Linked DNA regions of Homo sapiens. The protein of the gene in region 2 purifies or fractionates together with the protein of the main gene of each other region. This does not show direct contact. Each region holds a gene or a part of one and is shown on either strand. Other genes may lie near its edges.

Evidence for each region. Proteins that work in one complex are often made in the same cells at the same time.
Region 1: the proteins of KIF2B (region 2) and NEK1 purify together in Homo sapiens (affinity purification with mass spectrometry; 2 studies listed by BioGRID and IntAct, with this or other methods). This does not show direct contact.
Region 3: the proteins of KIF2B (region 2) and TXLNG purify together in Homo sapiens (affinity purification with mass spectrometry; 2 studies listed by BioGRID and IntAct, with this or other methods). This does not show direct contact.

What each region holds. Positions count from the first base shown.
Region 1 is NC_000004.12:169,392,570-169,399,598, forward strand, and holds the end of NEK1 (serine/threonine-protein kinase Nek1), read right to left. Parts: intron 1,955-7,029; coding exon 1,941-1,954; 3' UTR 240-1,940; downstream 1-239. UniProt on the Homo sapiens protein: Phosphorylates serines and threonines, but also appears to possess tyrosine kinase activity. Involved in DNA damage checkpoint control and for proper DNA damage repair.
Region 2 is NC_000017.11:53,819,074-53,825,710, forward strand, and holds KIF2B (kinesin-like protein KIF2B), read left to right. Parts: upstream 1-3,853; 5' UTR 3,854-3,960; coding exon 3,961-5,982; 3' UTR 5,983-6,120; downstream 6,121-6,637.
Region 3 is NC_000023.11:16,782,315-16,789,479, reverse strand, and holds the start of TXLNG (gamma-taxilin), read right to left. Parts: upstream 3,015-7,165; 5' UTR 2,993-3,014; coding exon 2,891-2,992; intron 1-2,890. UniProt on the Homo sapiens protein: May be involved in intracellular vesicle traffic. Inhibits ATF4-mediated transcription, possibly by dimerizing with ATF4 to form inactive dimers that cannot bind DNA. May be involved in regulating bone mass density through an ATF4-dependent pathway.

The DNA of each region.
Region 1 (7,029 bases), on a different chromosome or scaffold from region 2:
GGTTTCACCATCTTGGCCAGGCTGGTCTTGAACTCCTGACCTCATGATTCACCTGCCTCGGCCTCCCAAATTCCTATCAAATTTATTCTTTTTGGTTCTCTGGGGGAGATAAGAATGTGCAACTAATAACAGTGTAAGACCTAGAAACTGCTCTGACCCTGACCCTTTACACAAGTGACTTAATTTCATGTTCAATATCCTTGCATGTTAAATGCAGAAAAGACAAAGTTATCCTGATAGCCCATTTAATGCTAACATTTATTAATCTACAGATGCTTCCACATGTCAATTCCAACACTTATAATAGACCTTACTGAAAAATAGCCCTTTTCCTCACTGGCATAATCTTTCCATAACAACACTCCAGAGTCACACACTGCTAATCGACTGGAGATGGCACAAATCTTATTGATCATCCTTATTCCTGCACATATATAACATCTTTTGAAATATGGCTAAAACAATTTTTTTCTACCATATTATACCCTTTTCTAATAGTTGTAATAGTTTAAGAATTAATACACAACCTCCCCAAAATCATGCCCATCTTTCAGGATTGTAAAGAATTAAAATATTGAATTCATTTTCTTCCATTATGAAGAAAGAAATCATCAGGTACAAAACCAACAAAAGTATTATCAGCTTGATGTAAAAGCCTTCTATTGAGAAAAGTAAAATAATAAATAAAAGACAATTGATATACTTCAGGTAGATAATAAAAATTTAATAGCAATATCATAAAATAAACACACATATTAAAAAATCAAGTATTTAGTTTCGGATATTAGAAATAATATACATAATAAATTCAACATACTGATAGTGCTGCAAGATAAGATTTTATTTTTCAAATTACATATTATGCCAACCAGCCTGCTTTGGACTCAGAGGTTCAAAAACTTTGCTTTTATTACGAAGAACATCTGGACTGTAGACACCTCTAACGAAACCAGGTTATACTTGGCATATTGTGATTGAAGCTGTGTGATCAACATCTTAATGACCTAACTAAATCCTCTCATAACAGAAAGAAGTTCAACAGGCAAACATTTCCCTCCCTAGGATCCTAGTTACCAAAACTGTCACAGTGTCAAAATAAAAATAATTATTTCCTCCTTTTTAACATCTTATTGTCCTTGAAGCTTATGTATGGAGGAAGTTAAAAACCAAAAGAGCAACTTTAAGCTATATGCTAAGTCAGTGTTAAATCCACAGACTAATTTTTCGATATAGTATTCCTGGTTCTGGTCCTTAAAGAGAAATAAAGGCATTAAACCAACTTTTTATATGTCAAGAAATATAATTTTGCTATTCTTTCATAATCAAATCTTTCAATGATTTCTAAGACTGTTTCTACAGCCTGTGTGCTAGTTCAGGAGACACACTGATTGTAAAAGGACTTGAGAATATAAACTTTAAGGCTAAAAATTTCATCTTCAAAATGTATAGATGTAAACAGAGCCCTTGACAAGGTGATTTAATGTAGAACTGCTGGCCAGAATGAAAACAAGTACTAGACAGAAAAAAGATCATGCTTAAAGACTCCATTGAAAAACCACAGACAGGTCCTTCATGACATAGGTAATTCCTTCAACCTAAAGACATTTGCTGAAACTCAAAGTTACCCTATTGCATAGTAAATCTTCAAAACCATTAAGTCAGGTTCTGGGTCAATGTTTCCTATGCTTTGGTTGGATGATTTAATAAAGTATATATTTTATGAGATTTAACCATGGAATTCAATGAACAAAATAGATAAAATATTAGAATCTTCACTGAAAAATGGCATGTTTCTCCATCTTTTTCATGCAATAAGAAAGTCCATCTTAAATCTGATTTTTTAAATAAATAATTGCTGTATTTCCCACTGAAGCTTGTTATTCTGATAAGCCAAATTCAAATGCTTTCATATAGTTGAGGATTAAAAAACATTTTGAGGATTATTCATCATTATCTGTAGAAAAAAGAAAAAAATTGACTTCATTTCAAATCAAGCTGTATCTACTTTAAAAAAAACCCATTCTTGTTCATGCTAAAGGAGAAGAGCTTTAATGTAGTTTTAAACATACTTTTAAAATTATTTTATCACACATTCCTTGTAAAATATTCAGACAATACAATGAAGAATAAAATGGGAAGCAAAAATCATCTGTAAGTGAAAGACAACCAATGTTAACTTTATATAAATCCTCCCACAATGCTTTCCTATGCATACACAAATATCTTTTAAAAATTACACTAAAATGCAGTTTTGAAACATAGGTTTTCCACTGAAAACACCCTAGTGAATGGAAAGGTGGATACATAAGTGATAATGTAAGATTAGAAAATGCTAATGTTAGAATCTAGGTGGTGGGTGCATGGGTGATCACTGTAAAGTTCTTTCAGATTTTCAATATGATAAAAATTTGACAATAAAATGTTAAAGAATAAATCATGGATATATTCTATGTTGACTTCAATGTCTGCAGAGTATTCTGTTTAATGGATATGACATAACTAACCATTACTATTTATAGACATTTTTGTTATTTTCAATTTTTTTAATTCTAAAGATTATAATCAAGTGAATTAAACAGACTGGTTAACTTAATCTTATATGCAAGCACTATCTTCCACATTCTAGCAAAAGTGATCTTTCATTAAAATCCAAGGGTCATGTCAAATCACTGCACTGCTTAAAACATTTGTTAGCTCCCTGCTGCCTCAAAATGGAATCCACGCTCCTTAACGTGGATTACAAAGCCCTTCATGATCTGGCCTTTTAAATATTTCTCATCTTACCAAATTTCATTCCCCACCTTCCTTAACTGCCCCTATAATTTATGCTTTAGGAACACTGAATTGCTTATAGTTTCCCTACTACATTTTGCATACTTCCATGTATGAGTACTTATTTGCATTAAATTCCCATTTGTCTTTCAGAATCCAACTTTGATGTCCTCTCCCCTAGGAAGACCTATCCTGTCACCATCAATGTAGTTGGATCATTACTTTATAACTTACATACATTTTATTGCTTCCAAGGTAACACTTATCACTGGACTATAATTTACTTACTTTTCAAATAATCAGGAAAGTAATGAACACACATATCCATAATATGTAGAATTAACAAAAGCTAACTTTTGGCCATAGTGGTTTGGATTATTTAAGTAAAACCATATTACAGATGCAGAGTACCCTTTCTCAATCTTACTGCCTTCCTTTCTTCCCCAGGGGCATTTTCAGTACTCTGAAATTGATGTGTATTCTTCCCGCTCATGGTTTTTGCTTTTATTTTTATTACGTACATGCACATCTAAATAAAATTGTTTAGAAACACTACATAAATGGTGTAATATTCTACTTATTCAACTCATCATGTTTGTGGGGCTTATCCATATTGACAGTCGGAATTTAATTCATTCATTTTAGCCGATGTATACAATTTCATTACATAAACGCAGCCCAATATTCCACCTAAAATGAATATGAAGAGAAGGTATGTGTCTCTTTCTTAAGAGTCTATAATGGCCAGGCATAGTGGCTCATGCCTGTAATCCCAGCACTTTGGGAGACCGAGGCAGACAGATCACCTGAGGTCAGGAGTTTGAGACCAGCCTGGCCAACATGGTGAAACCCTGTCTCTACTAAAAATACAAAAATTAGCTGGGTGTGGTGGCACATGCCTGTAATGCCAGCTACTTGGGAGGGTGAGACAGGAGAATTGCTTGAACCTGGGAGGCAGAGGTTGCAGTGAGCCGAGATCATGTCACTGTACTCCAGCCTGGGCGACAGAGCAAGACTCCATCTCAAAAAAAAAAAAAAAAAAAAAAAAAAAAAAAGAAGAATCTATAAACTTGGGCCGCTAATGCTAATACTCAATGTGAGAACATGGTAGCCTCTGCCAGGTTGCCACTGGCCACAGCTGTTATACTCCTCTCCTTGTGGAAGAATTTATTAGGAATACTATCAAATCGCTTACACATTTTATTAGCTCTATTTGACTTCTGACTCTGGATAGTATCTAGCTATGGAAAAAAAAGCATTAACTTTATCAACGGCTGAAGATATTGACGCTTACCAAACCTGCACCATAACAGTATCAGGAGAGTTAAATAGCTGAGGCTGTCTTTTCAGGACTTATATAATTTCCAGTGAAATAAAACAGAAATGTGTTTTTGACAATCTTCTTTTTAACTTGTATCTTAATGACTTGATGTCACTTTCGGGTGAGCGAGATAAAATTTTGCTTACCCCTTCCCTTCTTTACTCTCCCTTTTCCCCAACACAGAAAATAAAAGTGTGTAAGTACCATATGTAGATGACATGGCTTTACCATCTCCTAGATGTGGCCTAAAAGATAGCTGTCTGGACAACTATCTCTAAGACAGGTAGGCTGGGTGCGGTGGGTCACACCTGTAATCCTAACACTTTGGGAAGCTGAGGTGGGAGGACAGCTTCAGGCCAGGAGTTTGAGATCAACATGGCGAAATGCCATCTCTGCCAAAAAAATACAAAAATGAGTCAGGCATGGTAGCTCACGCCAGTAGTACCAGTTACTCAGGAGGCTGAAGTGGGAGGACTGCTTGAGCCCAGGAGGCGGAGGTTGCAGTGAGTTGAGATCATGCCACTGCACTCCAACCTGGGTGACAGAGCAAGGCCCTGTCTCCATAGAAAAAAAAAAATCCCAACAAAAAACTCCCCAAATCAAAAAGAACAGCTATATATGGGCTCTACTGACTTCCAATAAGAAGGAGTGCAAAACGGTTATTCTGAATCAATGAATATGAAATCTATATCTAGTCATTTCATTTAACTCTCATGATTAACAATACAAAACAGCAAGTCATCCACATAATTCAATATCCATTTTATAACCAGTTTCTTTAGTAGCTATAGTAGCAAGTTACAATATTTTATGGGCTGTACTCAATTTTTTTTTAAGCTACACCTGCTGTAATGGTATGTACTAAGAGTTTTAGAAAAGATTGCCAGGGTAGGCATCTTCAATTGCTTTACATTTTTTCTAGGGTGAAGGAATTACTGTCAGGCTTTATGATACAGAACTCTGGGGTTCTCTTTCCCTTTCCATTTGTGTACTAGAGAAAATCTGATATTGCTTCCTGAGTGGTGTATTAACCTAGCCTGATTCTTGGTCCTTTGCAGGGGAAATGGCCTTCTGTGTAGGCTTATATCCTTTTGAAGCCACTCAGTTGTCAAAAGAGGGTGTCAATTCTACCTTGTGAATAAGTTGATTGTTACAGCTCTCCACTTAAGGGGCAAGGCAAACTAAAAGCTCTCCAGATACTTGTTGAGCAAAACTGAACCCCAAGCACATTGTTGCTGATTACTTATGAAAAGCTCTATTGAAACAATACTTAAGGAGAACCGCCTGGAGGTGGAATAGTCTGAATATGAATAGAATTGGTTTGATACACTCTACAGAATTACTGAAATGGAATCATCCTCTGGCTTCGTGCCATTAACTTACAGCATGACATATGAGAAACAGCCTCATGAAATCTAAATATTGTAAAAATTACTGAGGATACTTTTCATTCCATTATAGCACTGTTTTGTAAAATGAAGTCCAAGGTCTCAATAAAATAAGAAATCCACAAGTACCAGAAAATGTTTACCTTTTATATTTTCATTTTGATAAAATTTTTTAATATTTAGAAAAATACAACATGTTTTACAGTAATAATTCACAACTAACAGAAATTTTCTACCACTAAGACTTGAGTTTTTTTTTTTTTACTGGGGTTTATAGACCCTTGGATTCTCATGCCTGAAAAAAATACTTTTTGCTCCTTAAAGGGATCCACATGTTATTCAAGTTTGAGGAACACTGTATGATAGTGCCCTCTTTTTAAAGATCATGGGAAAATTGTTCCTTTGGTTTCAATACCAAAAATAGCTGTCCTCTGAGCAACTAAAATGTTTTGTCTCATGAATACTGTGACTCATGTAATTAATTAGGTTTTCTGCTTTGTGAGAAAGACCAGCACCAAATTTGTTTCCTGTTTTTAGAAAATGTGGAAACCTTTTGAACATGAAGTTTGTATTCTTCATTCCTGGCTTCATGTTATACTGCTTGTGCTCATTTGTCCAATTTGTTGACTTCCCCAAACTTTTTTTTAAAACTTAATTTTCTCTCTTACTATATACATATATATATTTCAATGCAATCTTAGACTTTTTTGTATGAATATGCAAACACATTTTGTATGGAATACAAATACATTTTATAAACATTTTTATTGCTAAAATTAAGCATCAACATTTAAAACCCTCAATTTTAGTCTATGAATTTAACATTTAAAGTAATAAAATTAATGTTTGGGCAAATAATCTAGAAATAAATTCTTGTTCAAAATTTTACATATTGCTTTTTGTGTCTACAAGTTTTGCCAGGTGCAGTGGCTCACACCTGTAATCCCAGCACTTTGGGAGGCCAAGGAGGGGTGAATCATTTGAGGTCAGGAGTTCGAGGCCAGCCTGGCCAACATGGTGAGACCCCATCTCTACTAAAAATACAAAAATTGGCCAGGCATGGTAGCACCTGTAGGCCAAGCTACTCAGGAGGCTGAGGCAGGAGAATCACTTGAACCCAGGAGGCAGAGGTTGCAGTGAGCTGAGACTGTGCCACTGCACTCTAGCCTGGACAACAGAGCAAGACTCCATCTCACACACACAAAAAACGTTTAATACCACATCCTTGATAAGAACTATTCTAGGGCCAGGCGCAGTGGCTCACATTTGTAATCCCAGCACTTTGGGAGGCTGAGGTGTGTGGATCATCTGAGATCAGGAGTTCAAGACCAGCCTGGCCAACATGGTGAAACCCTGTCTCTACTAAAAATACAAAAAGTAGTCAGGTGTGGTGGCGCACGCCTATAATCCCAGCTATTTGGGAGGCTGAGGCAGGAGAATCACTTGAGCCCAGGGGGTGGAGGTTGCAATGAGCCGAGATCACGACACTGCACTCCAGCCTGGGCAATAAGACTCTGTCTCAAAAAAAACAAAAAAAAATGAATTATT
Region 2 (6,637 bases):
TAAAACAGTGTTAGAAAGGCACGTATGTGATGCATATCTCCTGGGAGATCTGTATCTAAAATGAGACTAGAAATCACATTCTCTTGTATAAATCAACTTTGACAAGCCCCAAACTGGGAATATATCTGTAATTAATAAATGAAAATTACAAAGCTCATTTCCTGCGCTTACTTCCACCCACCCTACCCACTCTTGTGGGGCTACACCTGACACTTATTAGGCTTTTGAAAAAAGGAGACTTAAAATAAAGAGAATCTATCACTCAACGGTTTGTCAAGGCATGAGCTTTTTTAGTAGGTTCACAGAACAAAATGTGTAAATGGTAAGTTCCTTGAAGGATTTCTTTGACATAAGAAATAGCACAAAGTGAGCATGTACTGCTTGGTTCTATTCAGTTAAAAATATAGGGGTGGCTTTGGTCTCTAATCTGGAGAAACTGCTCATCTACCAAAAGCTATTCAGGGCATGGCCAAGGCTGATATCTTGCATCTAGGGCCTTCTTGTTTTGACAAATGCTGTATTTATCTCATTACTCAAGGTTCACAGTGGTTTTTGGTTTTAAGATGGACTAGTCTGGCAGAATAAATTCCATTAAATGAGAGAGTTAGGCAGATGGTTTCTGAATTGTGAATTTTATATCAGCAAATATAAAAAGGGATTGCTCCAAAGAAGTTCCAGACTATTGGAATTGTAAAAGCACCCAATCAGCTCTCTATAAACAGGTTACTGTTATTTTTCACCAATGAGAATTTTTTTTAATGTACTACTAAAAATTAGGCTTTGGGTTCCCTTGACTAGCCAAATTCGACCAGTAATAGACACCATTTCTTCAGAAGGGGTGTCTTTATCTAATGCTATTTTGCCTGGCTATTGTCAAGAAGGTCAGAGAAACCTGTCCAGGGTAGTGATGTTTGAGGTAGGTATTGAAGAGCTCAGGAAAACCATGAAGACAAGGAAGGATTATTGTCAGAGGGCTGTACTAGTAATTCTCAAAATGTTGTCCCTGCACCCAGCAGCACCAACATTGCCTGGGAACTTGTTAAACATGAGAATTTTCAGCCCCACTTCAGACTTACTGAATCAACAACTCTGGCATGGAGCCTAGTAGCCTGTGTTTTAACAAGCCCTGCAGTTGATTTTCACATATCTTAATATTGAGAACCACCGGACTAGCAATTTGAAATTTGAAAGAAAATGGTGTGTTTGAAGGGCTGCAATTTCTTCCACATGGCTCAATTTTAGATTAAGTATGGATAGTGGGAAATCTTGAGGATGACAAAGCAGGCAAGATGATGATGTGCCTTAAGTCTTCATATGGAATTTATACCATATCATTAGGATGATGAGGAGCTAACAAATGCTTAAAAGCAGTGAATTAATAAGGAAGAACCTGTTAAAATAACTCTAGGAGCAGTGTGAGAAATAGACTAAGTCCCTGACTGGATGAGGTTGCAAAAAAAAAAAAAAAAAGAAAAAAGAAAACAAGCTCATAATTGGTTGGGAGATTAAATGATATCATGGTTATGGAAGACTTCTAGAGACTGGGAAAGGACTACCTAAGTTAGGATGGGCTGAAAGGGGAAGAACACAAAGATCTGTGTCAGGATTTTAAAGATGAGTAAATGTTGAAGTTACTAAAAGCAATTAAAAATAACAAAGACCTGCCATTTTCAGTAAGAAAATAACAGAATCAGTTTTGGATTTGTTAACTTTTTAGTTCCTGCAGGTGACTACAAGTTTAGGACTCATAATTCTGGTTATCAACAATCTATCTAGCCAGCTTTATATAAAATTAAACTGTAGGAACAAATGCAATATACTAGGGAAACTATATAAAAGAGAAAAGAACTGAAAAAAAGTCCTGAAATTGCTATGAAAACCTGTATGAACATGTTGGAGAGAAAGAGGGAGTAAAAGGAAACTTTTCTCTCTGATTTTGGCACTATTATCATGGATCTGCTCATCCATTGTCTGTCTAAAACATTACTAGCTAAGATGAAAACCCTATGGCTAGCCTGGAGGGTCTAGAGTTTTCATAATTTTGAGAGAGACCCAGCTTTTTCAAAGGTAACGGTTAAAAAAACAAAGCAAAACAAACTATTATGTGGGCTCAGTGGCTCAAGCCTATATTTCTATCACTTTGGGAGGGTGAGAAGGGAGACTCCCTTGAGGTCAGGAGTTTGAGACCAGTCTCTGTGCAACACAGCGAGACCTCATCCCTAGCAAAAAAAAAAAAAAGAAAAAAAAAAAAAAGAAAGAAACAAAGAAAGAAAATAGCAAAGCATCCTGACACATGCCTGTAATTCCAGCTACTCAGGAAGCTGAGATGGTAGGATGGCTTTAACCTAGGAGTATGAGGTGGCAGTGAGCTATGATCAGGCCACTGTACTCCAACTTGAATGACAGAGTGCTAATGACAAATACAGTGTATTAAGAATATCTACATCATGGCCTTGAAACCAAGAAAGAACAACTGATTTAAAGCACAACTTTAAGTATTGATAATTTGGGGAAATAAAACATGATATTTTTTAGAAGACAATTGCCTAAAGCCCTTTCTCCTCTCCCTCCACCTGCATACAACCTCCTCTTGAAATGAGCACTGCTTACTTATCTAATTTATCCAGTATCCTCCTTCCACCTTCTTTTCAAAATCTAAGCTTTACTAGACTGACTGAACAGAAAAGTTAGTTTATAGTAGAATTTATTTCTATAGAGGCCCTTATTCCTAGGGAAGGTTGTAACTTGCTACTTCATGTTACTTTGGAGCTATAATTATGATAAAATTCAACAGTCCAAAAGACAACATGCACGGGTGTTGCTAGTGAGCTGAACGTAAGGCATCACCCTTACTCTGAGCTTGGCCTGTCTAAAAGTCAATGTCATTTATTTTATAAGCTAATTCTTATGCATGAAAATATTGCAATCTTGGCAAAATATATTTTTGCATCCGATGGTCTTAGCTGCCTTCCAGCCTTGCTTAACAACTTCTAAAGGACACACACAAGTACTGCAGGGGTGGGGGGAGTATAAGATTAATTATCTCTTTCCACACAATGCCTTTTCTTTCTCTCCCAATTATGGATAATGAGGCCAGAAGTGTAATTACTGAAGGAGTTTGGAAAGGTAATTACTGAACTAATCTCAAAAATGGTGGTGACCACAGCACAACAAAACTCACTTTATAGCTGTCAGAGCCACTTGGAATGTGATACACATGTTGTGTTTGCAAACCCAGGTGCTGTACGAAAGGTAGTTTCATATTAGCAAATTACCACAACGACCTGCTACATTCTACTCATTTTGATTTTGTAATGAGAAAGCCGATTAAACTGTAATAACTTTAAGTTGTGACTCTTAAACAAGTTACACGTTTTGAAGGAGGTGAAAAAACAAAGATGGCGGGTTTGAGGAGCCTTTCTGGGATCCTGTTGAATATCGAGTCCTGAGATTTGCAAATAGCTCTACCTTCATCTATTCCCACTGATCACTGGAGAGTTAAAGTTTAAGGAAACTTCATAGCAATTCTCAAATTAAAGCACTGAGCTTTGAGACTGCCAGCCAAGGCCTCCTTTTATGCTTAGGCATAAATGTACACGGGACATATAAATTAAATTTCAACGCCATGGTTCCCGTTGCTTCTCTGTTACCTGTTCTTTCTCGCCATGATCCGGAGAGCACGCCACATCCTCCTCCAACCCCTTCACCCTCACTGGCAGAGAACAATCTCTCCATCCCTTTGTGCTCCCGTACCATTCACTCCTAAGCCCTAGGTTCTGCCGCCTCATCTCATCCCTTTGTGACGTAGTGGCCCCAGTCCGGGCCCCGGCGCGCTAGGCTCACAAAGGCAGGCACAGACTGCAACCCTGCTCAGTGCTCCGGGCGCTTCAGGCTGGCTTGGGTCCTGCTGCTCCAACCCCAAGGGCCCTGGAGCGCTCCCTGATACCTCCATCACTCACCATGGCCAGCCAGTTCTGCCTCCCTGAATCCCCATGTCTCTCGCCCCTGAAACCCTTGAAGCCACATTTCGGAGACATCCAAGAGGGCATCTACGTGGCGATCCAGCGCAGTGACAAGCGGATCCACCTCGCTGTGGTCACGGAGATCAACAGAGAAAACTATTGGGTCACGGTAGAGTGGGTGGAGAAAGCAGTCAAAAAAGGCAAGAAGATTGACCTGGAGACCATACTCCTGCTGAATCCAGCTCTGGACTCTGCTGAACACCCCATGCCGCCCCCGCCCTTATCCCCCTTGGCTCTGGCGCCCTCTTCGGCCATCAGGGACCAGCGTACCGCCACGAAATGGGTTGCGATGATCCCCCAGAAAAACCAAACAGCCTCAGGGGACAGCCTGGATGTGAGGGTCCCCAGCAAACCTTGTCTGATGAAGCAGAAAAAGTCTCCCTGCCTCTGGGAAATCCAGAAACTGCAGGAGCAGCGGGAAAAGCGCAGGCGGCTGCAGCAGGAGATCCGAGCTAGACGCGCCCTCGATGTCAATACCAGAAACCCCAACTACGAAATCATGCACATGATCGAAGAGTATCGCAGGCACCTGGACAGCAGCAAGATCTCAGTCCTGGAGCCCCCGCAAGAACATCGCATCTGCGTCTGCGTGAGGAAGCGGCCTCTCAACCAGCGAGAGACAACCTTAAAGGACCTGGATATCATCACCGTCCCCTCGGACAATGTGGTTATGGTGCATGAGTCCAAGCAAAAGGTGGACCTCACTCGCTACCTGCAGAACCAGACCTTCTGCTTCGACCATGCCTTCGATGACAAAGCCTCCAACGAGTTGGTGTACCAGTTCACCGCCCAGCCACTGGTGGAGTCCATCTTCCGCAAGGGCATGGCCACCTGCTTTGCCTATGGGCAGACGGGAAGTGGGAAGACGTACACCATGGGTGGAGACTTTTCAGGAACGGCCCAAGATTGTTCTAAGGGCATTTATGCTCTGGTGGCACAGGATGTCTTTCTCCTGCTCAGAAACTCCACATATGAGAAGCTGGACCTCAAAGTCTATGGGACATTTTTTGAGATTTATGGGGGCAAGGTGTATGATTTGTTGAACTGGAAGAAGAAGCTGCAAGTCCTTGAGGATGGCAATCAGCAAATCCAAGTGGTCGGGCTGCAGGAGAAAGAGGTGTGTTGTGTGGAGGAAGTGCTGAACCTGGTGGAAATAGGGAATAGCTGTCGGACTTCCAGGCAAACACCTGTCAACGCTCACTCATCCAGGAGCCATGCAGTGTTCCAGATCATCCTGAAGTCAGGACGGATAATGCATGGCAAGTTTTCCCTCGTTGATTTAGCTGGGAATGAAAGAGGAGCAGATACAACCAAGGCCAGCCGGAAAAGGCAGCTGGAAGGGGCAGAGATTAACAAGAGTCTTCTAGCCCTCAAAGAATGTATTCTGGCTTTGGGTCAGAACAAGCCTCACACCCCATTCAGAGCCAGCAAACTCACACTGGTGCTCCGGGACTCCTTTATAGGCCAGAACTCCTCCACTTGCATGATTGCTACCATCTCTCCGGGGATGACCTCTTGTGAAAACACTCTCAACACTTTAAGATATGCAAACAGAGTAAAAAAATTAAATGTAGATGTAAGGCCCTACCATCGTGGCCACTATCCGATTGGACATGAGGCACCAAGGATGTTAAAAAGTCACATCGGAAATTCAGAAATGTCCCTTCAGAGGGATGAATTTATTAAAATACCTTATGTACAGAGTGAGGAGCAGAAAGAGATTGAAGAGGTTGAAACATTACCCACTCTGTTAGGGAAGGATACCACAATTTCAGGGAAGGGATCTAGCCAATGGCTGGAAAACATCCAGGAGAGAGCTGGTGGAGTACACCATGATATTGATTTTTGCATTGCCCGGTCTTTGTCCATTTTGGAGCAGAAAATTGATGCTCTGACCGAGATCCAAAAGAAACTGAAATTATTACTAGCTGACCTCCACGTGAAGAGCAAGGTAGAGTGAAGCCAATGGCGAGAGATCAGGTCCGAAATGCTGCATTGCTGCAGTTTCCACCACTCTTATACAGGAAAACTGTCCAAATTATCTAAAGATCCTCCTGAGAAGCTTAAAACATCTTAAAATACACTGATGGGAAACATGCTCTTTCTTCTGCCTCTGTATTTCTGTAGTTTGTTTTCATCCTGCTGAACTATAGTTTTCAACAGGGAATGGTTCCTCCCCACCCCCTACCAGGACATTTGGCGATGTCTGGAAACATTTTTGATTGTCACAACTGGGGGTGATGAGGATACTGGCATACAGTAGTTTGAGGACCAGAAATGCTGCTAAGCATTCTAAAGTGTACAGCAGCAGTCCCCAACCTTTTTGACACCACAGACCGGTTTTGTGGAAGGGAGTTGTTCCGTGGGTGGGGTTGGGGATGAAACTGTTCCACTTCAGATCATCAGGCATTAGTCTCCTAAGGAGCATGCAACAACCTATATCCCTCACATGCACAGTTCACAATAGGGTTCATGCTCCTGTAAGAATCTAATGCTCCTGCTGATCTGACAAGAGGGGGAGCTCAGGCGGTAATGCCCGCTCACTGCCAGCTTGCCTTCTGTTGTGTAGTGTGATTCCCAAAAGACCACAGACCTACCGGTCTGCAGCCCAGGGG
Region 3 (7,165 bases), on a different chromosome or scaffold from region 2:
TTGGTTAGTATAACTGAAGAAAAAAATTTTTAATTTTAATTTTAGTTAACAAATTTAGCTACATGTCACTAGTGGCTACTATCAGCACAGTTTTAGAAAATTCCTGAAGAGACCCCTAGTAATGTACTGTAACATTACCTTTAGAAGCAAAAGGTTACCTCAAGAGACCATTCAAATGGTTGTAGTTATGAAACAATGCCACAATTAACTGAGCAGGTCGCGAGTGACTAGGCAGATGGTTAAAGCAACCAGGAACCAAAAAAGCCCATCTCCAATTGTTCCTCACTTCAGGTCCCATAATGTAACTAGATAATGACAAAACACTCACTTTTCTTTTAATTCTTTCAATATTTTCAAAAAACTCAATTCATTAAACATTTCTGCTTCCTGAAAAAAAGGATAGAAGTTAAGCTGGAATTAAGAAATATTTTTTCAAGTCAGTGACCCAAAAGAAATTTTAAAATTAAGGGACACAATGAAGTAATGTAAAAATGATTTTTAAAAAAATTTTTGGCCAGTTGCAGTGGCTCATGCCTGTAATCCCGCCACTTTGGAAGGCCAAGGTGGGTGGCTTACCTGAGGCCAGGAGTTCAAGACCAGCCTGGCCAACATGGTGAAACCCTGTTTCTACTAAAAATATAAAAATTAGCTGGGCGTGGTAGCACACATCTGTAATCCCAGCTACTCAGGAGGCTGAGGCACGAGAATCGCTGGAACCCACGAGGTGGAAGATGCAGTGAGCCAAGATTGCATCACTGCACTGCAGCCTGGGTAACAGAGCAAGACTCTGACTCAAAAAAAAAAAAAAAAAACACAACAAGTTTGTTTGTTTTTTTAAGAGACAGGGTCTCACTCTGCGGCCCAGGCTAGCCTCCTGCTTCAGTCTCCTGACTAGGTGGTACTACAGGTGCATGCCACCATAGCTGGCTTAAAAATGATTCTTGCAAACACAAGATAATTCACCCAATTTGTTAAATGAAAATTCAAAGATTAATATTTTACCATGTATTTGAATGCCGTCACTGTCAGTTAGAAATCAAAAAGAAAAAGATGCTCAGAAGAGCATAAGCAAAGAAGAATGGAGTATGAGGTACATAAACAAAAATGAGTAGACACACACATGACTATTCCTATCCAGCTGTTAACCAGAGCTCTGCACCTCAAAGGGTCATTACCTCCTATCTTGGTTATTTTAAATGCTAGTTGATTAAACCTCAGTTCCTAATTCAACGACTTTTTGTCCTTATCCCAGTGTCATAAAAGGGAACTTATATCCTCAATTGCAGTGGCTTTTTATCAGAGTCCTCCTCCCCTGGGGAACCTACGAAATCAAACACTGAGATTGGCACTCCACCCTTAGGGAATAAGTGAAGTGTCCAAAGTGATGGTGTTGAATCCCTTACAGGACATTGGTCCACAGCTTCTTTTTCAGTCCTGCAAGCACTGGATCTTTCTTTTAGAATACAAAGAGAGGGAGAGAAAGAAAGAGAGGTAATTGAGAAGTAGTAACACTGTCATGCAGAAACATGAAAATACCTGACCTTAGAAACAGGCCCCAAAAAGCTAATTCTTAACACTCTGCTCAGACGTAAACTGGACCTTTGTTCTCCCATTTGAAGTTTATGAATTGCATTAGAAAAATATTATTTCGTAATTTCATACAGGAGTTAAGAGTGTTCAAATACATAATTAAGTAATATTAAATAGCCCTCGGTGATCAAGCAAGATATCCAACAAGTCGAACGTTTCAGTATGTTCACCTGCAAGGAAAAAAAGAGATGGGGTTCCCACCTTCCCAGTCTCAGTCCCCGCAATTATCCATTCCAGGGCCCCGAAAACCCTGTACCCCGTTCGTTGTGCAATCTTTTTCAAACTCCACCCACTGAGCTCCAGAACAAGTGGAATTGTCCCGTTCTGAAAGAGGTCTCAATTTTCCTGTATCTAGGGAGGGACTGAAAACTCCTTGACGTGAGTCAAGTAAGGCAAGGGGAACAGTCCGGCCTGTTTCCCAGATTAAGAAAGACCCAAGGCCAGGGTCGGGAAGGCATTCAAGTTTCCACTCATCAAATTAAAAAAATAATAAATGAAAGAAAAAAAAGAGGGGAAAAAAGAGGAGGGTGGTAAATAGGACTGGGAGGACCAGCTATCATGCGATATCCCAACTCTGCAGGACCGAGGTCCTCCAGCATCGCCTCCCCATCCATCCCCGGCCCCACGTGCAGCCAAGCCCTCGGAGCCCCGGGGTCTAGGTCCCGGGGGCCGAGCGTCCCGCTCGCACCGGCCCTGCGACACTCACCCGCTCGCCTGCCCGCCCGCGCAGTGGCGGGGAGCGCAGGGGGGCGGGGGAAGGGGGGCCAAGCACACCCCGGCTCCCGCGCGGTTATCTTACTGCGCAACAGCCTAGCCTGAGCAGCCCGGGGGCACCCCGCAGCGCGCCCTGCGCACCTGCCCGACGCCAGGAGGGCGAGCCCACGACCCCAGCGAGCCCCCGGACGGCGGCGCTCAGCGCCGGGAGCACGGTGACGGCGGTGACTGGGAGAAGGAACGCCTGGCGCCCGGATCCCCGCGGTGCTGGCCGCACGTGGCTGTCACACCTGGCGCACCCCCGCCTCGCACCCCTTCTCCCTTAGAACCGCGTGCGCCCCCTGCCCTCCCTCCCGGCTTCCCCGCCGCGCGCCGCCAAACCCCAACCGTCGTCCCTTCCCACCCCATCCATCGCGGTCCCACCCCCCCCCACCTGCTCCCACTGTCGTCACCCCCGGGAGGGAAGAAGACCGGATGTTCGTCCCGTGGCTATAGGTAACCAGGGAGAGAGAAGAGGTGGACCCTGAAAAAGGGAGCCCAAACATCCCCCGGGCCCGACAACAACGAGGGCGTCCCCCTGACTGACCTTCTGCCGCGGGCTGCGTCGCCGTCCGCCCCGTCCGGCCTCAGTCGCCTCTTCGGCGCCGCCGCCTCTTCCCCGCGCTGCCTCCTCTACCCGCGTCGCCATGAGGTGACGGCAGCAGCCAAACAAGCGGCCCGACAAGGGGCACAGAATCTCGCAGGGCCTTTCGCCCCGCCCCCGAGCCCCCACGACCAATCGCCGCATGTGAGACTTCCCACGTGACCGGAGGAGGTTGGCCCCCGAGGGGACGGAGCGAGATGGGGATGGGGAGCATTGAATACTGGGCTGGGCTTCAGCAAGACCGAAGGGCAGATAGAGGCCGTGTGAGTCTGCGCGGATCGGGAATGGGACTCGGGAGTGGACTACAAGTCCCAGCAGGGCGTGCGGCCACAGCTCGCAGGCTCGGATCGGGATTGGGACATAAGGCGGCGTTCTGAAAAGGGGAGAGTGCTGCACCCAGTGTGCTTCGTGTGCATCCTAGTGGGACTTGCGGTTTCTGGGGGCGATGTCTGGCTATAGGAAGGTACTCGTTATGATCTTTCGCGGAAAGTTTAGAAATATCCCCGTGTTTGAGAAGGAGCACGATCGGCGACACATTCTTGTGTTTTTGTTTTTGTTGCCGTTCTTAGGAATTGGGCGCGAATGATTTGGGGATAAGGGAAAATACTTCACGACTTTCAAGACGGAAGGTGTATTGGCTCTTAGAATTTGAAGTTTCGTGCTCGGGCACCTGCCCCGAGCCCTGCCCCTCCACCAGAGTTGTTACCACGGTTTACTTGTCCCGAGCTCCCGCGGGATAGGTGCCGCATTCTATTCACCTTGGTTGAACCGCCCCGGCTTCTGCACACTTACTTGGCACTTCATTCATGTTGAATGTATCCTGCTTTCTCCCACCCCATTTACTCGTTTCATTACCTAAATTTTTTCAACAAACTCGGTTTGCTGAACCGAATTTTTTTTTTTATTGATATGATGTTGGGGGGGAGAGGGGAGATTTCCTCAGGAATATTCCCTATTTCCATCTGATGGAACCAGATCTCCAATGGCCGAGCTTCTGAAAGGCACAGACCATCATGAAATCCTGATATATTGTCTTAAATAATTCATTATGAGGCCGGGCGCGGTGGCTCACGCCTGTAATGCCAACACCTTGGGGGACCGAGGCGGGTGGATCACAAGGTCAGGAGTTCCAGACCAGCCTGGCCAACACAGTGAAACTCCGTCTCTACTAAAAATACAAAAATTAGCCGGGCATGGTGGTGGTGGTGGGCTTTTCTTTTTTCTTTGTTTTTGTTTTCCCAAGACGGAGTCTTGCTGTCACCCAAAGCTGGAGTGCAGTGGCACGATCTCAGCTCACTGCAACCTCCGCCTCCCAGGTTCAAGCAATTCTCCTGCCTCAGCCTCCCGAGTAGCTGGGATTGCAGGCACGTGCCACCACGCTGGGCTAATTTTTGTATTTTTAGTAGAGAGAGGGGTTTCACCATGTTGGCCAGGCTGGTCTTGAACTTCTGACCCCCTGATCTGCCCTCCTCGGCCTCCCAAAGTGCTGGGATTACAGGTGTGAGCAACCGCCCCCAGCCGGTGGTGGGCTTCTGTAATTCCAGCTATTTGGGATCTGAGACAGGAGAATCGCTTGAACCCGGGCAGCAGAGGTTGCAGTGAGCCAAGATCGTGCCATTGAACACTCCAGCCTGGGTGAGGAGAAACTCCATCACACACACACACACAAAAGTAAGTTATTCCTCAAAAAAAAATTTTTTTTTAGAGATGGGGCATTATGTTGCCCAGGCTGGTTTCAAATTTCATGATTTTCTATATTGTTTAAGTATGTATGGAATGAAAAAAATCAATAAAGTTATCTTTATTAAGGAAAGAGGCCGGCCACGGTGGCTCACGCCTGTAACCCCGGCACTTTGGGAGGCCGAGGCGGGCGGATCACCTGAGGTCAGAAGTTCAAGACCAGCCTGACCAACGTGGTGAAACCCGGTCTGTGCTAAAAATAGAATTAGCCAGGCGTGGTGACACGTGCCTGCAATCCCAGCTACTAGGGAGGCTGAGGCAGGAGAATCGCTTGAACCCGGGAGGCGGAGGTTGCAGTAAGCCGGGATCACGCCATTGCACTCTAGCCTGGGCAACAAGAGCGAGACTCCGTCTCAAAAAATAAAAAGAAAAGAAAAGAACTATGCCATTAACCCCAAGCCTTCAGAGAAATGAAAAATATTTAATTGAATTAAATGCATATCTTTTTTTTTTTTTTTTTTTTTGAGACAGAGTTTTGCTCTTGTTGCCCAAGCTGGAGTGCAGTGGCCAATCTCGGCTCACTGCAACCTCTGCCTCCCGGGTTCAAGTGATTCTCCTGCCTCAGCCTCCCAAGTAGCTGGGATTACAGGCGCGCCCCACCACGCCCAGCTAATTTTTCTATTTTTAGTAGAGAGGGGGTTTCACCACGTTCGCCAGAATGGTCTTCATCTCTTGACCTTGTGATCCGTCCACCTCGGCCTCCCAAAGTGCTGGGATTACAGGCCTGAGCCACCGTGCCTGGCCTCTTTTTTTTTTTTTTTTTAATGCAGAGTCTTGCTCTGTCGCCCAGGCTGGAGTGCAGTGGCATGATCTCAGCCCACTGCAATCTGCACCTCCCAGGTTCAAGGAATTCTCGTGTCTCAGCCTCCCTAGTAGCTGGGATTACTGGCGTGCACCACCACACCCGGCTAATTTTTGCATTTTTAGTAGAGATGGGGTTTCGCCATGTTGGCCAGGCTGCTCTCAAACTCCTGGCCACAAGTGCTCTGCCCGACTCGTCCTCTGCCCAACTCGTCCTCCCAAAGTGCTGGGATTACGGGCTTGAGCCGCAATGCCTGGCCTATCCTTTCTTTATGTCCAAGACTTTAAGGGTCATCCAATGTTCTGTTTACATTGATCTCACCTTTGCGCCAGGACTATTGTCTTTTAACTGTGCCTGCAGGCGTGGCTCACACCTGTAATCTCAGCAGTTTAGGAGGCTGAGGCAAGAGCATCGCCTGAGCCCCGGAGTTTGAAACCAGCGTAGGCGACAAAGCGAGACCTCGTCTCTAAATAAATAAAGTTATCAAATAAAAAAGCCGGGCGCTGTGGCTCACGCCTGTAATCCCAGTACTTTGGGAGGCAGAGGAGGGCGGATCACCTGAGGTCAGGGGTTTGAAACCAGCCTGACCAACATGGTGAAACCTCGTCTCTTCTAAAAATACAAAAAAAAAAAAAAAAAATCAGCTGGGCATGGTGGCGTGTGCCTGTAGTCCCAGCTACTCGGGGAGGCTGAGGCAGGAAAATCGTTTGAACCCAGGAGGCAGAGGTTGCAGTGAGCCGAGTTCATGCCACTGCACTCCAGCCTGGGTGACAGAGGGAAACTCTATCTCAAAAAAAAAAAAAAAACAAACACTGTGCCTGCTAGAAGGGTAAAGGCCACCAGAACAATAGCTCCTCATTGGGTACGGGGTGTTCTCTCCAGGCTCCCTAAGGAATGTGAATATAACCTGAATATGGCTCCATTTATTCAGATGTTTATTAAAGTCTTGAGCAAGCAGGCATCAAACAATTCATGTGAACAGTAAGCTCAATGAGGTCCCAACTCTTTGACCTTTGAGATGCTCTGACCACCGTTGTGATGAAATGTAGAGCTCTCAAGGTGGACTCACCACTATTACAGAGGCAGGATTCTGTTGGCCTTATAGCCGATATCAGGAAACTGCAACCCTCAGAGTTTATAGCTGGACACAGGACGGTTTAGAGGTTTAGCCTAGAGTATTATCCTGAAGGAAACAAGCTTCGGACTTGCTAGATTCTTTTTTTTTTTCTTATTAATTGTCTGTATGACAAAGATTTTTTTTTTAAGAAAGATTCTTATACTCTTTTAACGCAAAAGTGAGTAGAGTCTCACATATTTTAAACAATGCATATATCTTGAATATCCCTGATTTCACTAATGTGAGCCCATTCTAATGCTGTTATTTTTATTTTTATTATTTATTTTTGGTGACAGGGTCTCACTCTGTCACCCAGGCTGGATTTCAGTGGTGCCATCACGGCTCACTGCAGCCGCCACCTGCTGGGCTCAGGTGTTCCTCCTGCCTCAGCCTCCCAAGTAGCTGGGACCACAGGTGTGTACCACTACACCTGGCTAATTAAATATATATATATATATATATATATATATATATATATATATATTTGTAGAAATGGTAGGAGGGTGTCTCCCTATGTTGCCCAGGCTGGTCTCAAACTCGTAGGCTCAAGAGATCCTCC